Linked DNA regions of Homo sapiens. The protein of the gene in region 1 purifies or fractionates together with the protein of each later gene. This does not show direct contact. Each region holds a gene or a part of one and is shown on either strand. Other genes may lie near its edges. The genes, in order: EIF4E3 and THEMIS2.

Evidence for each region.
Region 2: the proteins of EIF4E3 (region 1) and THEMIS2 purify together in Homo sapiens (affinity purification with mass spectrometry; 3 studies listed by BioGRID and IntAct, with this or other methods). This does not show direct contact.

What each region holds. Positions count from the first base shown.
Region 1 is NC_000003.12:71,687,309-71,691,124, forward strand, and holds part of EIF4E3 (eukaryotic translation initiation factor 4E type 3), read right to left. Parts: intron 2,858-3,816; coding exon 2,702-2,857; intron 1-2,701. UniProt on the Homo sapiens protein: Recognizes and binds the 7-methylguanosine-containing mRNA cap during an early step in the initiation of protein synthesis. May act as an inhibitor of EIF4E1 activity.
Region 2 is NC_000001.11:27,878,826-27,882,641, reverse strand, and holds part of THEMIS2 (protein THEMIS2), read right to left. Parts: intron 2,999-3,816; coding exon 2,588-2,998; intron 672-2,587; coding exon 1-671. UniProt on the Homo sapiens protein: May constitute a control point in macrophage inflammatory response, promoting LPS-induced TLR4-mediated TNF production. Determines the threshold for activation of B cells by low-affinity and low-avidity ligands via PLCG2 activation and its downstream pathways.

The DNA.
Region 1 (3,816 bases):
CAATTACTAACTCTGCCATTGTAGCACTAAAGCAGCTATAGGTAATACGGAAACAAATGGGTATTGCTCTATGCTGATAAAACTTTATTTATGGACACTAAAATTTGATATTCATATAATTTTCATGTGTTACAAAATATACTTTTTCTTTTTTTTCCAACCACTGAAAAATGTAAAAAGCATTCTCAGCTATACCTATACAGAAACAGGAGAGCGGAGAGGGTAACACAGAGGGCAGATTTGGGCTCCAGCTTCCTGCTGTAAACAATTCTCACACCAGAAAAGACCTTTGTCACTCAGCTGTTCTGAAGAACTTAGCAGAATTGGCCAGGGTGGGGCTGGTCAGTGAGTGGAGTCTGTGCATTGTGAGTTTCTCAGTCAAATAATGTGTATCCATATCAAATGTAAGTTATCAATGGCCCAATGCCCATCTACCCGCTAGAGGCCATGACTGAATATGCTTGGGTTCTTTCTACATGGAAAATCTACAGTCACCTGGCTTATGTAAACTTGGGAATACTTACACTAGGATCCTATTAACCAAACCAGAGTAAAAGCATACATTGGCCATTTCTAACTTAGCTTACCCTGCTGTGAAAAAGATTTCAGCCCAAATCTTATTTTTCCAAATTACTTCTGCAGCAAGTAGTGTATACCCTGCTGAGTAAAGGACTGCCTGCTTTGTTTACAATAAAGAAAACTGCTTGTTTTTTTTCAAATTCAGATTTTTATTTGAACAATCTTTGAGTTTTTAAATGCCAATTTATGCCCTTAAAGTATGAATTTCTGCTGAGACCCTTCCTCAGTTCTGTATTACATACTTTGCAATGGCCCCTACCTTTAGGTATCTATTTGATTTAACTGGCCAAGTTGCAGTTTTCTTTCCCCTTGTTTGGCTTTTTTCTTTCCCAGAGCCATCACAACAGCTAAGCAGTGAATCATCCTGCCCTTTGACAATCTTATCTGATTATTGCCATGGCCCTAAAAACTAGCCTAACCACTTTGTGGCCTTATTATCTGATAAAACAGATATCTTATTATCTGTGTTGAGCCTGCTGCTAACCAATGTGCTACCTGGAAACTTAATCATAGAATTTTGCAGTAGAAGGAACCTTGGAGATCATCTAAGACCAACCTCCTCGATACTCAGATGAGAAAGGTAAAGGATGAGAAGTTGTGACTTGCTCAAGGTCACACTGGTGAAGTGGGACAAAAACCTAAAGTGCCTGACTTAACGACCCCAAATTGGTGTTCTCCTCTTTAGAGTCAAGTGTGGAGCTGGTTCAAAGGTGGGAAAAAATGTTTTAGCCCCATACATAAATGCCAATGAAATACACTTCCGTCTATAGAGTTTCTGCTAGTCTTGTGAAATAAAAAAAAAGAAAAAACCCTTGATGACCTTTCAATTAATATCTGGGGTGAAAATACAATTAAAGTATCCCTAAAGAATAAAAATGGCATCGGCAAATTGGCAACTTCTACACCACGCAGCCAATAAGCAACTTCTGCAGTGCCATTTTTCTGTCTCTTTTAAACTTCCATTTAAAATTCAGAATATCTGTAGTGCCAGATCAGTCCCACTGCTTAACATCTAGGTCATTTGGCCTGTAATTATATGATTCCTTACAGGGAGGCCTTAGTGTTAATATCCCCTGTCATACTAGGATACTCACAAAACAAAATTTGATTTTTTTATCCTTTTTTGGCAAAGAGTTGGAAAAAGTGAAGCAATAATGAAATGTATTTCAGCAATTCTAAGACGCACTCCTCACAACTACCACACATATATTTGAAGACCTCTGGTACCAATAATGTGTTACAGTTTAATTGGGAGCCTTTTATTTTTCTTTTTCAGTAATACTAAAATAATGGAGCATTTTATCTTCAAGAGCATCTTAGATTCAATGAAATACGGTAGTTAAAAAATGGGTTACTGACTCCAGGAACAGTTTTGGATATAGGAAATTTATCATACATGTGTAGGGCTGTCGTCCTTTTCTCTAACTCTGTTAAATGTGTGACCTGCAGTCTGATCTACCAAACATTGGTTTAATAGCACTAAGATGTTTTCATTATGAAAAAGAAGACTTTTTCAAAAGAGCACACAAAAGCAATGAAAATGAATCATGATGGAAAACAATGGGTCCACACACCTATTCATACTGTTAACATTTCACCACTAGGCGTGAATTCTCCCTCAGTTCTGTGTCATAGTCATTCATAATGAGGAAGTATTAGCATTTCAGTAGAACATTCAATCACGCCTGTGCTCAGAATGCATTTCTTCTGCAAATACAGATGTTATACATTATAAATTCCTGTTTATGAAGGGATGATTGAATATCTACCTGCCAGTTCATATAATGACATTTTTGTTATTGTTGTTTCCAATAGAATGTAATTTTTTTTCTGAGAATTACAAATTTGAGTTCAGGTACAAATTTTTGAAATAACAAATACAATATTTGTTATTTCGTTTTCTGATCCACGCAGTTAGGCAAGAATAAAATCTTACTTTAATTTCTGAGACTAAGCTTGTTTTTTTTAAAAAAAAAAAAAACTTAAATGTATTTTGTTGAATTATTTTCTGAATTATCAAATTTCAAGTAAATCTGCCTTCACCACATTTGCAAAACAGTTTCTATCTTTAAAAGTATGATAGAGTAAGCTAGAAAGTAATAACTGGAAATGAAGCACTTACGTTTATAAAATACTGCTTTAAAAGTTATGTGGGGCAGAAGTTCATAGATCTTTTCTAAAACAGTCGCTTCACCCACTAAAGAGGCATTTACATTCCAGACTTGGACGACGTCTTCTCGGTCCCGAACACTGACACTAACTCCTATTACTTCATCATCTGAGGGGAAGACAGGAAAAAAAAAAAATGAGTGATACTTCCAAGTCAGTCTGACTGTTTCTAAGAACTTAGTCTTTTTATCTGAAAATTAAGGATAAGATGGAAAAAAGAAGGTGGCACAAGATAACTTGTAAGAAATAATTGTTTCTATGGGGAATCACTGGAGGAAAGCAAGTCAGTGCACAAAAGCTGTAGCAGTCACATCACATTTATCCAGGGACTTAGATAAAGTGTTCCAGCCAAATGCATTTTCCAGATAAGTAATTTACCCTTTTTAACATTACCAAAGCTTTGTGACTATTTCTTACTCTGTTTTGATGAGACTTTTTCTAAAATGGGTTGCATAATTCCCTGCCCTCTGAAAGCCAAGTGAACTGAAATGAACTTTTCCTTGATGCCTTGCTGTCTTTGTTAAGGAGAGCAAGAATTTCTCCTGACTTCCTGCCAAGCTTTCAGGGACCTTGGAGTGGTCAGCGCTATCTGCCCCAACACGAACTGGAGCCAGATTGTGCATTCTCGACTGCTCATCTGCTTTCTGCGGTTTACTTGTCTGCTCCTTTCCTATGAATTCTTCCTGCTTCCTGATGCCTCCCTCTAGAAATCCCTTTTCTGGTTTTGGGCATTATATACTGTGGGCTAGAGAGCCAATGACCATCTGTTAGCACTGTGTATAGAGTGAGAGTAAAATCTTCTGAGTACAGCTCTGCTATTATAGGATCGTCCTTCAATGAATGAACGTTAAGGCATTTATCCACATTGATTAAGGTGGACTTTTTTTAAAAAACAAAATTCCAGATTAGGGCTGTCTTGCACATAGTTGAGAACGGCGGATGGATAGTAAGGTGTTATACTGTTTTATCCTCCCTTGCAGCCACTTTGTTTACATAAATTTGCAGCAAAATGAAAGGAATACAAACTTTTGATTCTTTGTTTCCTTGTTCATGACACGGTAATGCAAT
Region 2 (3,816 bases), on another chromosome or scaffold:
GCGCCGGCTGTCACTCATCTCCTCCACGAAACTGCCAGGGAAGTGGAAGGGCAGCAGGACCCGCTCTGGGCTCTCTGCCTCCTCTTTGCACTCTTCCTCCTCATCCTCCCCAGCCTGGTCACTCAGCCGCTGACAAACCAAGACATCCACGTCACTGCCCTGGGCCCCATGGGCCTGGCCAGGCCCCAGCACCTCCAGCCGGTCACCCACAGCCAGGGACGTGAACTCGGGATTCTCCTCCCTCTCGCCCTCACAGTCCTTTGTGGCCACCACCCGGAGTGGCCGGCCTGGCTGGAAAGCACCTAGGAGGTCATAGGCCGTGGGGAACTCCCTTGGCCGCCGCCGCAGCTTGCCTTGGTAGCCCCCTGACACCAGGAAGTGCCTGGGCACCTTGCGGCCCTTGCTTGAGGCCAGGACCCGCCAGGGTGGTGAGGCTAGGCCATAGACGCAAAGCCTCTGGCCTTTTTGCAAGGAGCCCACCCACGGGCTGAGGAAGATGGGGCGGCCCTCAGGAACCTCCAGGATCTCCATGGACAGGGGGAAAGGGCCTTCCCAGGCCAGGACCTCGCTCAGCAGCAGCGGTTTGATAAAGTGGACGTGCCGGGAGGAGGCGGTGACGTCCTCCACGTCGACCTCCAGGGTAGAAGGGATCTTGACAATGGTCCTGCGCACTGTGGAGAGGGGCAGCTCAGTGGCACTGCATGCCACCCCAGGAGTGGCCCCCACCCCAGGCATAGAGCATTGGCTGGGCCGGCTGGCCTCCCTCCCGCTGCTGTCTTTTCTTTCTTTTTTTTTTTTTGAGATGGAGTTTCACTCGAGATGGAGTGCCCTTGTCGCACAGGCTGGAATGCAATGGCACAGTCTCGGCTCACTGCAACCTCCACCTCCCAGATTCAAGCAGTTCTTCCACCTCAGCCTCCCGAGTAGCTGGGATTACAGGCGCCCGCCACCATGCCCAGCTAATTTTTGTAGTTTTAGTAGAGATGGGGTTTCACCATGTTGGCCAGGCTGGTCTCGAACTCCTGTCCTCAGGTGATCCTCCCACCTTGGCCTCCCAAAGTGCTGGGATTACAGGCATGAGCCACCACGCCCGGCCCCCGCTGCCATCTTTTCTTTCCAATCAGAATCTTCCAATTTACACTACGCCACATTCCCACACATGCTTTCCCTTCAACCTTCTTTTTTTTTTTGAGATGGAGTCTCGCTCTTGTCGCTCAGGCTGGAGTGCAGTGGTGCGATCTTGGCTCACTGCAAGCTCTAGCCCCTGGGTTCACGCCATTCTCCTGCCTCAGCCTCCCAAGTAGCTGGGACTACAGGTGCCCGCCACCACACCCGGCTAATTTTTTTGTATTTTTAGTAGAGACGGGGTTTCACCATGTTAGCCAGGATGGTCTTGATCTCCTGACCTCGTGATCCACCTGCCTCGGCCTCCCAAAGTTCTAGGATTACAGGCGTGAGCCACTGTGCTTGGCCCCAACCTTCTTAAAAAAATTACTATTTTTATTTTTTTTCCTCCAAGTATTAAGAAAAAAGAAAAATAAATTTTAAAATTATTATTTTTAGGCTGTGCTCGGTGGCTCACGCCTGTAATCCCAGCACTCTGGGAGGCCGAGGTGGGCAGATCACCTGAGGTCAGGAGTTCCAGACCAGCCTGGCCGATATGGCGAAACCCTGTCTCTACTAAATATACAAAAAAATTATCTGGGCATGGTGGCGGGCGCCTATAATCCCAACTACTAGGGAGGCTGAGGCAAGAGAATCGCTTGAACCTGGGAGATGGAGGTTGCAGTGAGCTGAGATCAACCATTGTACTCCAGCCTGGGTGACAGAGCAAGACTCTGCTTCAAAAAAGAGAGAGATGAGGTCTCGCCCTGTTGCCCAGGCTGGAGTGCAAGGGTGTGATCATAGCTCACTACAACCTTGAACTCCTGGGCTCAAGTGATCCTCCTGCCTCAGCCTCCAGAGTAGCTGCTACTACAAGCACTAAGCCTAGCTAATTTTTTAAAAAAATTTTTGTAGAGATGGGGGTCTTGCTATGTTGCCTAGTCTGGTCTGGAACACCTGAGATCAAGCGATCCTCCAAAGTGCTGGTATTACATGCGTGAGCCACTGCACCTGGCGTAGCCGAGATAATTTGAGCATCAATAAGAATAACTGGCCAGGAACGGTGGCTCACGCCTGTAATCCCAGCACTTTGGGAGGCCAAGGCGGGTGGACCACCTGAGGTCAGGAGTTCAAGACCTGCCTCGCTAACATGGTGACACTCCGTTTCTACTAAAAATACAAAAAATTAGCCGGGCATGGTGGTGCACGCCTGTAATCCCAGCTACTCGGGAGGCTGAGGCAGGAGAATCGCTTGACTCTGGAGGGTGAGCCAAGATCACACCATTGCACTCCAGCTTGGGCAACAAGAGCGAAACTCCATCTCAAAAAAAAAGAATAACTTCAGTGTAATACAGAGGGAGCAACCTGAAGTTCCAGCTGATCCTCAGGGATGGGGTGGGGGTGTCTTCCATCAGAGCAGCTCCCAGGGGCAACCCTCTTTCTCTCCCCCAGCAGCGCGCATCCATCTGCCCAGGCAACTCACTGTGCATGATGGCTTGGATCTCATACTGGGGCCGCAGGATCAGGGAATGCCAGGGCAGGGTGGGGCAGGTGAGGACGAGGTCTTTCAGGGCTGGATCCTGTAGGACCTGGAGCAGAGTTCGAGGGGCACTAGGCTCCCATGTCCAGAAGGGCCCCTTCTGGGATAGGGGCAGGTGCAGGATGACCTGCTGACCCTCCATGCCCAGGACACAGCGGGCAGAGCGGATCCCGAGGTGCATCACCACAGCCTCAAGCATGAGGAGCTGGTCCTCAGTCACCACCCTGCCCTCTGTGACAATCCTGTGGGTCGACATGAAGCAAGTGGGCAGCTGCTTGGAGCTCTGAGTTGTGGCAGAGACCAGCTCCTCCAGGGTTTCATAGCTCTGTGGGGTGTTGAGGGGGGTGAAGTAGCCTGTGGGGGACAGCAGAGAGCAGGCAGGTCACTGTGGGGTGTCAGGGTGGGGCAGGCCTTTGTCAGGTCCAGACCCCAGTCTGGCCCTGCAGATGACCCAGCCAGAATCCCCCAGGGACAGGTGTCAATGACAGATTTGCATCTGGACATCTGGGCTGCAGGGCTGAGGGACACAGGGCAGAAAGTGGCAGTGCATGAAGGGACAGGGAGAGACAGGAAGTAGGAACCGAGAGAGACTTGTCACCAGAGACACAGAGAATGGAAGAGGGACACATTCCCTGACAGACACACTAGACTTCCACACTCTCCAAGCTCCTGACCCTACCTGCCTCTAACTGCCATCTTAGCCTTTCCTCCAGATGCCTCTCCACAGGTCCGATCCCACTCATCCAAAACCTGCCGTCCCTCTCTCCCAAACGAACATCCCAGGAGCTGCTGGCCAGAGCCACCTCAGACCACCCACTTTACCCCTGCATCCTGGCTGCCAATAGTGACTGCCCGACTGTCCCTGCACCCCCTCCCTCCAGCCCCCACCCATTCCGCCAGCAGCTGGCCTAAATACCTCGCTTCCAGACATGATACCGCTTTTGGGAAGCAAGCTTTTCCTGCCCCAAACCCACAACCTGAAGCTAATCGAGGAAACACTGCACAAGCTGGGACTGAGGGATATTCTACATAAGTACTGGTCCAGATGCTTCAAAATGTCAATGTCAAGACAAAGGCAGAGGAACTGTTCCAGTCTGAAGGAGAATGAAGAAACAGGACAACTGAATATGATGTGTGATCTAGGACTGGACTCTGGATTGAGGGGAAAAACT